Linked DNA regions of Homo sapiens. The protein of the gene in region 3 purifies or fractionates together with the protein of the main gene of each other region. This does not show direct contact. Each region holds a gene or a part of one and is shown on either strand. Other genes may lie near its edges. The genes, in order: HAVCR2, A2ML1 and GSKIP.

Region 1 (3,655 bases), on a different chromosome or scaffold from region 3:
TTAAGAACGTTTTCTTTTATCTAAGTTTTTAAAAAATCTTAATGATGCCTATAATCCTATTTGAAATGAATTCTACTCCGTACTTGTCACAATAATTAATGGAGAGACAGACAAAATTTACTGAACACCCAGGAATCAACTTTAGGATGGCCACATTTTTTCATCTAGATAATGAACCGTACTGTTTTATGAAATAGAGACTTCTGCCAGGAAGTCCTACATTAAATATGTGCTTTGTTTTTTTCACAGGACCCTAATGAGTTCTACAAACATCTAGCAATATTGATAAGACTCAGGCATTATTTATTTATTTATTTATTTAGACACAGAATTTCACTCTGTCACCCAGGCTGGAGTGCAGTGGCATAATCTCAGCTCACCGCAACCTCGGCCTCCCTGGTTCAAGCAATTCTCATCCCTCATCCTCCCAAGTAGCTGGGACTACATGCATGCACCACCACGCCCAGCTAATTTTTGTATTTTTAGTAGAGACGAGGCCATGTTGACCAGGCTGGTTGTGAACTCCTGACCTCAGGTGATCTGCCCACCTCAGCCTCCCAAAATGCTGGGATTACAGGTGTGAACGACCAGGCTTGGCCTCAGGCATTATATTCTAATTAGATTTTAAAAGACAACAAAAATTCATTTCCTTCTTTTTTGTTTTTTTGAGACAGTCTCACTCTGTTGCCCAGGCTGGAGTGCAGTGGCACAATCTCAACTCACTGCAACCTCCATGTTCTTTTTCTTTTTTTTCTTTTTGCGAGACAGAATCTCACTCTATCACCCAGGCTGGAGTGCAGTAGCATGATCTCTGCTCACTGCAACCTCCATCTCCTGAGTTCAAGCGATTCTCCTGCCTCAGCCTCCCTGGTAGCTGGGACTACAGGGGCACACCACCACACACAGCTAATTTTTGTATTTTTAGTAGAGACGGGGTTTCGCCATGTTGGCCAGGCTAGTCTCGAACTCCTGACCTCAAGTGATCCACCCGCCTCGGCCTCCCAAAGTGCTGGGATTACAGGCGTGAGCCACCGTGCCGTGCCCAGCCTCCATTTTCTTAAATAAGTTTTGCATTTACTCATGAGAAGGGAGACAGGGTTGCCAACAAATGAAAATAATCACTGTGGTCACAATGTAATAGGAGCCAGGCCTTGTGCTAAATAAACTCTTTCAGTGAAGAAGCTCATTTTAGAGATACTTAGAAGCACTTACTTTAGAACTACGCTTCTAAAGTAGAGACTGTTAGTCCCATTGCACAGATGAAGAAACTGAAAATTAGGGAAGTGAAGTGACTAACCCAAGGTCACATGACTTAGCAAATGACAAAATGGCCTTCCAATTTAGGTCTGCATAGCCTTAAATGCACATTCTTAATTATACTGCCTTCACCAGCCCTTACCTCAGTGCTGTCATTATGAAGAGGGTCACGTTGCCCAGCCACCCACTCACCATCTTTCCTTCCTGTTCATTTGTTTATTTCTTCATCTGCTGATCCATTCCATGAATATGCACTATGCCCTTACTCTAGGCACAGGGGACAGAGCAGGAAACAAGAGGGGCACAGGCCCTGACCTCATGAACACTGAATTCTAAAAATAAGTACATTGCCAGCTTTTGGAAAACTAAGCATGCTTACTCATTTTTATGGCTGAGTCAGAGATGTTGAAACTTCTTAAATGTCACTGTCACCTTCTGGAAGCCTTAATGTGTATAAAGGGTTTGACTAAATGCTGGTTTAGCAAACTATAGTTTAAATATTATAAAGGCATAGCCTCAGCCTAAAATTATTGAAGAAAAAAAGATTATGTTCCAATTACTTTTGCCCTAATTACCAGAAAAAAATTTAAAATATAAAAACCACAGGCCTGGTGCAGTGGCTCACACCTGTAATCCCAGCACTTTGGGAGGCCGAGGGCAGGCAGATCACGAGGTCAGGAGATCGAGACCATCCTGGCCAATATGGTGAAACCCCATCTCTACTAAAATACAAAAAATTAGCCGGGCGTGGTGGTGTACGCCTGTAGTCCCAGCTACTCAGGAGGCTGAGGCAGTGGAATCGCTTGAACCCAGGAGGTGGAGGTTGCAGTGAGCCGAGATCACACCATTGCACTCCAGCCTGGTGACAGAGCAAGACTCCATATCAAAAAAATAAAAAAAAGACCCTCATCAGTACAACTGCTAAGTAAACATGAATCTTAAGTGCACATAAGATTTTAAATGTAAATCCAGTTTCAGACTCCTTATAATTATTTTTCTTGATAAAAATGGTAAAACTAACTTTTTAAAAACTTCATTTTGCTATGAAAATGATCAGTAAAATCAAGCACTGTTGTGTCATTACAGCTTTTTTTCACACAGATTTGGCCACCAACCAAGATGGATGGGACAGTTGAAGGGAGTGGCAATGTTCTTTCTGGAGAAACCAAGATTTGCCTGGTGGGGCAGGTAGCAGCGGAGGTGAGATGTGATGGCCTTAACAGTGTATAAATTTAGTAGTTACCATCTATTTGGTACTTATTAGGTGCCAGACATGGTGCTTAGCACCATATACATACAATCTCATTTAATCCTCAACCACAATAAGTAGGTACTACTATTTTCCCCATTTTTCAGATGAAGATACTGAGTCTGAGAGAGCCACTTTGCCCAAGATCACACAGCTATTAATTGGGAAAGCTAGGATTTAAAGCAGATCTACTCTAGAGCTGAGGACTCACCTGTGACCCAGTCCTTACTCCTTCAGGTAGAAGACAAGTTGCATTTGTTCTGTGTTCAAATTCCAGGCCCTTGGATCTCTTACTTTTAAAGGCTCTACTCCATTTTTTTTTTTTTTTTTTCTGAGAAAGGGTCTCGCTCTGTTGCCCAGGTTTGGAGTACAGTGGCACCAACTCGGCTCAGTGAATCCTCAACCTCCTGAGTTCAAGCAATCTTCCTGCCTCAGCCCTGCCAAGTAGCTGGGACTACAGGCACATGCCACCATGCCCGGCTATTTTTTTTTTTTTTTTTTTTTTTGGGATGGAATCTCGCTCTGTTTTCCAGGCTTCAGGACAGTGGTGAGATCTCGGTTCACTCCTCCCAGGCTCAGACAATTCTCCTGCCTCAGCCTCCTGAGTAGCTGGAATTATAGGCATGCACCACCATGACCAGCTAATTTTTGTATTTTTAGTAGAGACAGGGGTTTCACCATCTTGGCCAGGCTGGCTTAAACTCCTGACCTCAGGTGATCCATCTGCCTTGGCCTCCCAAAGTGCTGGGATTACAGGTGTGAGCCACTGCACTCAGCCTAATTTTTTGTATTCTTAGTAGAGATGGGGTTTTGCCATGTTGCCCAGGCTGGTCTTGAACTCCTGAGCTCCAGTGATCTGCCTGCCTTGGCCTCCCATAGTGCTGGGATTACACATGTGAGCCACTGTGCCCAGCCCCATTTTTATATTAAATGCTCCCACATCCCACATTTAGAGTTGGTTTGCCAGCAGCCAATTTACATAATGTTACATATTATAGACAAACCATTAAATATTCATTCATTTCAATTTTTTATTTTATTTTCCTATTTAGGAGCTACTGACCTATTTTTGGTTGTTTCAATATTTTTTCTCAGTCAGGCCCTTGAGAAGCTCAGAGGTTCGAGGTATTATTCCTATATTCCCATTTT
Region 2 (3,655 bases), on a different chromosome or scaffold from region 3:
CAGCAGAGAGATTCATGTGATGAGATACTGAGTGAGGCCCCTAGCCAAAAGCTGAGGTCAAGAACTGTGTCCTTCAGTCTAGCAGCCTGTAAGGATCAGAGACTTTGGGATGAGCTTGAAAAATCAATCCTCTCCTAGTCGAGTCTTCAGATGAAACCAGAGTCCTGACTGACAGCTTGATTGCAACCTCATGAGATACCTTGAGCCAGAGGTACCCAGCTAAGCTGCACCCAGATTAATGACCCATAGAATCTGTTTGATAATGTTTGTCCTTTTATGACACTTAAGTTTTACAATAATTTGTCAAGCAACATGAGATAACTCATACATATGAAAATCAAACTTTGAGTTGCAAGGATTTAATCTATGAGTGACTGACATCCCATAGGGTTGGGGGTGAGGATTAAACAAGTTAAAGGTGCAGTGACTCATTCTTGTAATCCCAGTACTTTGGAAGGGTGAGGCGGGAGAATCACTTGAACCCAGGAGTTTGAGAACAGCCTGGGCAACAGAGCAAGACCGCTTCTCTGCCAACTGAATTAGCCAGGCATGGTGGTGGCATGAGCCTATAGTCCCAGCTACTCCGGAGGCCTAGGTGAGAGGATCGCTTGAGCCTGGGAGGTTGAGGCTGCAGTGAGCAATGACCACACCACTGTACTCCAGCTTAGGTGACAGAGTAAGATCTTGTCTCTCTAAAAAAAAATAAAAGGCCAGGCGCAGCGGCTCACGCCTGTAATCCCAGCACTTTGGGAGGCCGAGGCAGGCAGGTCACCTGAGGTCAGGAGTTTGAGACCAGCCTGGCCAACATGGCAAAACCCCACCTCTACTAAAAGTACAAAAATTAGCCGGGTAGGGTGGCACGCGACTGTAATCCTAGCTACTTGGGAGGCTTGGCAGGAGAATCACTTGAACCCAGGAGGTGGAGGTTGCAGTAAGCACAGATTGCACCACTGCACTCCAGCCTGCGCAACAGAGCGAGACTTCCTCTCAAAAATAAATAAATAAAATAAAAATTAATTAGTCAATCAATTTAATGAGTTAATATATGTAAAGCAGTTAGAATAGTGCCTGGCCCAGGGACTCTTATAGTAAGTCCTTGATTAGTTACATGACCATGTATTCCTTGTCCAGCTATAAATATTAAAAGCTCTCCCTTTCACACTCAAAATATTCCGGTTTGAACAAATTTGTTTGGTCACCTATCAAAGAGTGTTTGTGTATTGACTTATAACAGCCTTAGGAGGGAGAAAAATAGTGGAAAATGGAGGAGGAAGCAAAGCAGATGTGGCAGAGGAAAAGACTGAGTGCTCAGTCACTGGTCTTCTGCTGCTGGCTTTCCTCGCCCGTCTACCACTTCCCTCTCTTACCCAATTTGACAGCTGTGATGTTCCAGTGGTGGGTTTTTGCGTCATCAGCACAGAGACAACTGGAGGTCTGAGAATCTGCCCATGATTCTAGCTGGTACTCATGCGATTTAGCCAGGTCAGTCTGAACCTACGGAGGATGTTTAAGAGACAAAGGGTACAAACAAAGGAGGTAGTGCATAGAGGCCTGGGGAAACCTGGGGGCTGAGACGCCGACATCTCCTCTCTTTCCCAGGGAAAATTGGGATGCTTCCAATTTAGAGACAAACTTATGGGGGAGGTGTGATTCCAGGGCTGACACCTGATTCCTGTATCCCCAGCTCTCACCCTGATGCAATCCTTTAGGTAATTGAAGATGGTGGCAGTAAGACGAAAGGATTCCCCACGGACTACTGAGTAAGGGAGAGTCAGGTCAACAAAGAACGGCTTGAAAGCAGTTAGTCCAACAGTGGGTGAAAGCCCGAAGCCTCTTGACTGGGAAGTGCAGAAACTCATCGCCTTCCACTCGGTGATGGCGTCAGGAACTGTGACGTGGACCGCCTCCTTCCCCGAGTTACTGTGAAAACACAAGGACCAACATGAGGCAGAGGTAGCGTGGGGCAAGGAGAACATTTGTGAATTAAGCCACAAATTCGGTGGGGTGTGCTGGCTTACACTTGTAATCCCAGCTCTTTGAGAGGCTGAGGTGAGCAGATAGCTTCAGCCCAGCAGTTTGAGGCCAGCCTGGGAAACATAGCAAGACCCTATTTCTACCAAAAATTTAAAAATTAGCCAGGTGTGGTGGTGCATGCCTATAGTCCCAGCTACTTAGGAGGCTGAGGCAGGAGGATTGCTTGAGCCCAGGAGTTTGAGGCTGCAGTGAGCTATGATTGCACCACTGCACTCCAGCCTGGGTGACAGGGCAAGACCCTGTCCAAAAAAAAAAAGCTACAAATTCATCTGCAGAAGTAAAATTGTTATTGTTATTGTATGGGGAGAAGTAAAGAGGCAACTGAACAGGTGAGTCTCAGTGTGAGTGAGGCTGCACTCATACGGAGGAGGGGGACTATGGTGGGGAGTCGGGGTGGGCATCTCTGTGCAAGCACATCTGACAGAGAGGCTGGTGCCCTCTGAGTCTGAGGATGTGTGGTCTCAGGGCTTGTCAAAATGGATATGCAAGCAGTGAGCAAAAATTGATGTCAATATATACCTTTAAATGTGTGTGGTTCTGTAGTGAGAACACAGGGCCTGCAATGTGTGAGTGTGGAATTGTGTGGATTTGTTTTGAGTGGTTGTATATGAATGCATGAAGAATTCAGGTAGGCCGGGCGCAGTGGCTCACACCTGTAATCCCAACACTTTGGGAGGCCAAGGCGGGTGGATCACTTGAGGCCAGGAGTTCAAGACTAGCCTGGCCAACATAGCAAAACCCTGCCTCTACTAAAAATACAAAACTTAGCCAGGTGTGGTGGCATGTGCCTATAGTCCCAGCTACTTGGGAGGCTGAGGCACAAGAATTGCTTGAACCTAGGAGGTTGAGGCCTACAGTGAGCCAAAATCATGCCACTGCACTCCAGCCTGGGTGACAGAGCAAGACTCTGTCTTAAAAATAAAAAGAAAAAAAGAATTCCGGAAAATAAATAAATTCCCACACCCCATCAAGCTTTCTTTGCTTAAGATTTAGATCCATTAGGAATGCGTCTGATTCTGAGTTTTCTACAGGCTCTACATTGCAGAATCTTACTGTTTTTTTTCTGGGTTTGTTGTTGTCGTTGTCGTTGTTGATTTTGAGAAGGGTTTTGCTCTGTCACCCAAGCAGGAGTGAAGCAATGTGATCTTGCTTCACTGCAGCCTCCACCTCCCAGACTCAAGTGATCCTTCCACCTCAGCCTTCCAAGTAGGACACAACTACCATCTGGCTATTTTTTTAATTTCTTTTGTAGAGACAGAAGCTCATTATGTTGCCCAGGCTGGTCTTGAACTCCTGGTCTCAAGTGATCCTCCCTCCTAAGCCTCCCAAAGTGTTGGGATTACAGGCGTGAGCCATGCACCTGGCCCTTTACTGTACTTTTGAGTCATCACTTACCCAATAGGAAACAGATCCCAGAGCCAGGTCTCTGGGAAGTACTGGCGGACCTGAGAATCCTCTGCTTGATGTAAAGGAGTTGATGACTCAAAAGCCTCTGGATGACCACCGCCTGCTGATGAAATTGAGAATACGAAAACTTTAGGAAACAGGAGACTTCTTGTTGTGACATAAATTGGGATGGAGGGATTACTAGAAAGAAATTTAGAGGGAAGCAGAGAACATC
Region 3 (3,655 bases):
CGCAGGCTGTCTTGCACTCCTGGCCTCAAGTGATCCTCCTGCCTGGGCCTCCCAAACCACTGGAATTGCAAGTGTGAGCCACGACACCTGGCCTATCTGCTGGTTAAGTTCTTTAAACAGACCAGGTAAAATGGAGGTTTTAATATCTAGATTCTCATGTATATCTGTGTAGTTTTATTAATGTCCTCTCCTCTTGTTCCTCATTGCTCTTTCATAGTAGTAACAAGAGAAAGCTCACTTCAGTCATTTCAAATCCAAATGTAACAATGCAGAATTAAAAAATGGAAACAAGCTCTTGGAATTAATCATTTATCACAAAATGAACAATTTCAATTCTTAAACATACAATCACTTTTTTTCATACTAACTCAAAATGAGTAAACAGAATTTTATTCAAACTTTACAAATATCATTTACATTTAGCCTGAGATTAAACATGAGAAAGTTCAACCTGAAGTTAGACTTCGTTGCCCAGTTAAGCATCTGAAAATAAAGCTGAGAATGAACATACATCATCAAACAAAGCATTCCAATGAAGTCTGGCAATGAATTGTGACACAAACTGAACTTTAATTTGCTCTGGTCCACATGATCTTCAGAGCCTAAAAGTTCCTGTTTTTTAATAATGATGGAAAAATATCTGCAAATGATAAATGCATGAAGGTATGACCAGATGCAAAATTTTAGTTCAACATTTCTATAGCAGCTGCTTTAGGTGACCATTAAAAAACAACTCCCCAATCCTTACTGTTCAACATGTACTTGAAAACATGCAGCAGCATGGTACAGTTTATTAAATTTATAAATATCAGTACCTGTAATAAAATATAAAATACTGACTATTCCTTTTTCAAATATTAAGTCTCTGAATGCTTCATTCATCCTTTGGTTTCAAACCCATACAATGCACTCATATTACATTGTAGATTTCGAATGGAGACAGAACACTGTACATCTGTTGGGGAAGGTGGGGTGCTGTAGGAATACCAAAGCACTACATCATAGAAAGTAAACGTTGAAGCAAAAATACTTTCTGAATATATACTGTACATTATGTAAACACACATTCAGAATAAGAATCAACACAGGCCAAAATATTGTTTTCTAGGAAACCAGAATCTTCTTTCTTTTAAATCACACACTGAAGATGCTTTTTTGTTAAGAAAAAGAATGAAGTCTGTTCCTGTATTTGCTTATGTGCTTAGATATCTTGGAAATGAGTAATTATTACATTCATTTGCTAACGGTTTATCCTCTGCTTAGTTGGCTGGCTGTTGCAAACACGGAATACAGAACTATTTCAGTCCCTGTTTTTCATTTAATACTAGTTAAGTAATATATAATTAATTCATCTTTATTAATCCATTATTAGTAATATAAATAGATTAAGTGAAGCAGTGAATTTCAAAATTTGTGCAGGGGAAACTAGTTGATAATTTGTTTCCAATAAGGCTGGTAGCAATTAATTACTACAAAGTTTGTCCAAGCTAGTATTGAACCCCTGATTTAGCAGGCTGAATCAAAGTGTATAGTTAGGTACTTCTAATTCCTCTATTACTGTGCAAATCTAGAATTTCCTATGTAAAAGACAGTGCTGGCAGCATCAAAGCCCTGTAATAGTATGAAATAGTGATTAGGATTTGAAATGAAGAGATATTATATGAAGACATGTGAATGTCTTAATGATGGTATCATAGCAACGGCCTCAGAATTCCCTTACTGAAACAGAAACTAAGACAAATCATTATTCAATAATCTTCTGAGCCAAAAGCCTAAGTTGGAAGCAAGTGATAAAAACACAAAACCAAAGATGCATTTTCTATGACCATATGCAAGAATTTTAAGCTTTATATCAACATTCTGTACCAGCACCAGCCCCTCTGAAAGGAAAAAGTGTAGTCATGACTGTCCATCTCTTTTCAAAGCTTCCAGTCTTTGAAGCAGTGCGTTTCCAAATGCTTCTCGGTAGGCGGGGCTGAGTGTATCCAACAAGGAGTAGACTGTTTCATGGTAGGGAGTCTGTAAATGATCATCTACCTGGTCAAAAGCATAGCCTACCACCTACAAGAGAAATGCAACAGTGAATTCATTAGTTTTCATGTTGGTACAGAAAGCAAAATCCAAGTGTTTATGTGAGTAATCATCCTTTCAAAAAAATAAATTATTTCTTTTCCTAGCCACTAGACCACCAGATACATGGGTAACTGAGTGAAACTATTTCTCAAAGTCAGAGTATACACATTTTAAATACAACCTTTAATACTTCAGCAACTTATAATGTATAACACAGAAACACCACTAAAATGCTCCCTATAGAATTTTCAACATTTAAAAGGTTTTACTTAGAAGCTCAAGGAAATGCAGAGAAAGAATTTGAAAAGCTACACAAAAATGGTATTTCATTTTCATATTCTAAAACATGCATCTATTATTTACCCCATTTAATTCCACATATATTGAGGGTCCACTATATTAAGTACTATAATAGGTAATATATCATTAGTTCATATTTTTTTCATTATTTTTCACTTCTTTTATAAACAATTCTAAAAATTATTCCTAATAATTTAGTTTTAATAATTAGTTGTTAATTTTAATAATTGTTTATTAATAATTGGTTTAATAGTTTATTAGTTTTAATAACTGTTTAGCTTTATTATTAGTAATCTGAAAGGCCACTTTCACCTAATATATTTCTTACCTGACAGGGAATAAATGCTCAATTCTGTGAGATAAAAGAACATGTTAATGTGTTTTTTTTTTCTTGGTAGGGGTACACTATTTCTGGAGGTATTTGCAATACCAGGTCGATGTGTGAAGTTAATGGAGCAAGAGCCTATTCTATCTCCCTGCTCCAAAAATCCATTTAATATATTGTCCTTAGATAGAGGACATAACAGATATTAAACTGATAAGAAAAGATACTCCAATTGATCTTAGGCAAAAGGCTGACAGGCCATGTGTTTTTCTTTTTTTTTTTTTCCTGTGAACACAGCTACAACTTTTCTTTTTGACAAGATTATAAGGTATATCATGGTTCACCAGCACAATATAGGGCAAAATTAATTTAGTTTTTGCTGACTTAAGTGTGTACATTCCCTATATAAATCCTAAATTTTTATGACATCTATTTAAGCCATAGGAGGTGAAAGTTTGTGTTAGAAATAGAAGCTGAGTTTTTTTTTTTTTAAATGAAAAGCAGAGGCAGACACCTAAGGAAAATGAATCACACCTCTTCAGATCCATGCTCTATTACTGCACTCTCTACAGTGGAGTACAGTTCAGTTTGCCTTCTTCCTCTTATCTCTGCTAGACTGTGATCTTCCTGGTGGACAGGGATCATGTCTTATGCATGGTTTGATTTTCAATTGCTGACACAGGATAGTTGCTCAATAAATGTTAACTGAATCAGACTGAAAAACAAACAAATATTTGAGCACCTACTACATGTCAGGTTTTACATATGGTTCAGATCTTTCTGTATCATACAGTCATATAATCATTCCCCAAATCGTTTTAAGTTTTTTTTAAATCTCCAAGTTATAGATTAAGAAGCAGAAACTCTCTCAGGGGTAGACGGACTCACTCAAGATCACTTAAATTCACATTTAAGACTGCTGACTCTCTGATCAGAACTCCTTCTACCTCTCCACAG

What was found.
Region 1: the proteins of GSKIP (region 3) and HAVCR2 purify together in Homo sapiens (affinity purification with mass spectrometry; one large-scale study listed by BioGRID and IntAct). This does not show direct contact.
Region 2: the proteins of GSKIP (region 3) and A2ML1 purify together in Homo sapiens (affinity purification with mass spectrometry; one large-scale study listed by BioGRID and IntAct). This does not show direct contact.

The regions. Positions count from the first base shown.
Region 1 is NC_000005.10:157,098,953-157,102,607, forward strand, and holds part of HAVCR2 (hepatitis A virus cellular receptor 2 precursor), read right to left. Parts: intron 1-3,655. UniProt on the Homo sapiens protein: Cell surface receptor implicated in modulating innate and adaptive immune responses. Generally accepted to have an inhibiting function.
Region 2 is NC_000012.12:8,850,049-8,853,703, reverse strand, and holds part of A2ML1 (alpha-2-macroglobulin-like protein 1 isoform 1 precursor), read right to left. Parts: intron 3,545-3,655; coding exon 3,430-3,544; intron 1,921-3,429; coding exon 1,692-1,920; intron 1,495-1,691; coding exon 1,368-1,494; intron 1-1,367. UniProt on the Homo sapiens protein: Is able to inhibit all four classes of proteinases by a unique 'trapping' mechanism. This protein has a peptide stretch, called the 'bait region' which contains specific cleavage sites for different proteinases.
Region 3 is NC_000014.9:96,383,929-96,387,583, reverse strand, and holds the end of GSKIP (GSK3B-interacting protein), read right to left. Parts: intron 2,961-3,655; exon of another isoform or gene 2,772-2,960; intron 2,062-2,771; coding exon 1,900-2,061; 3' UTR 296-1,899; downstream 1-295. UniProt on the Homo sapiens protein: A-kinase anchoring protein for GSK3B and PKA that regulates or facilitates their kinase activity towards their targets.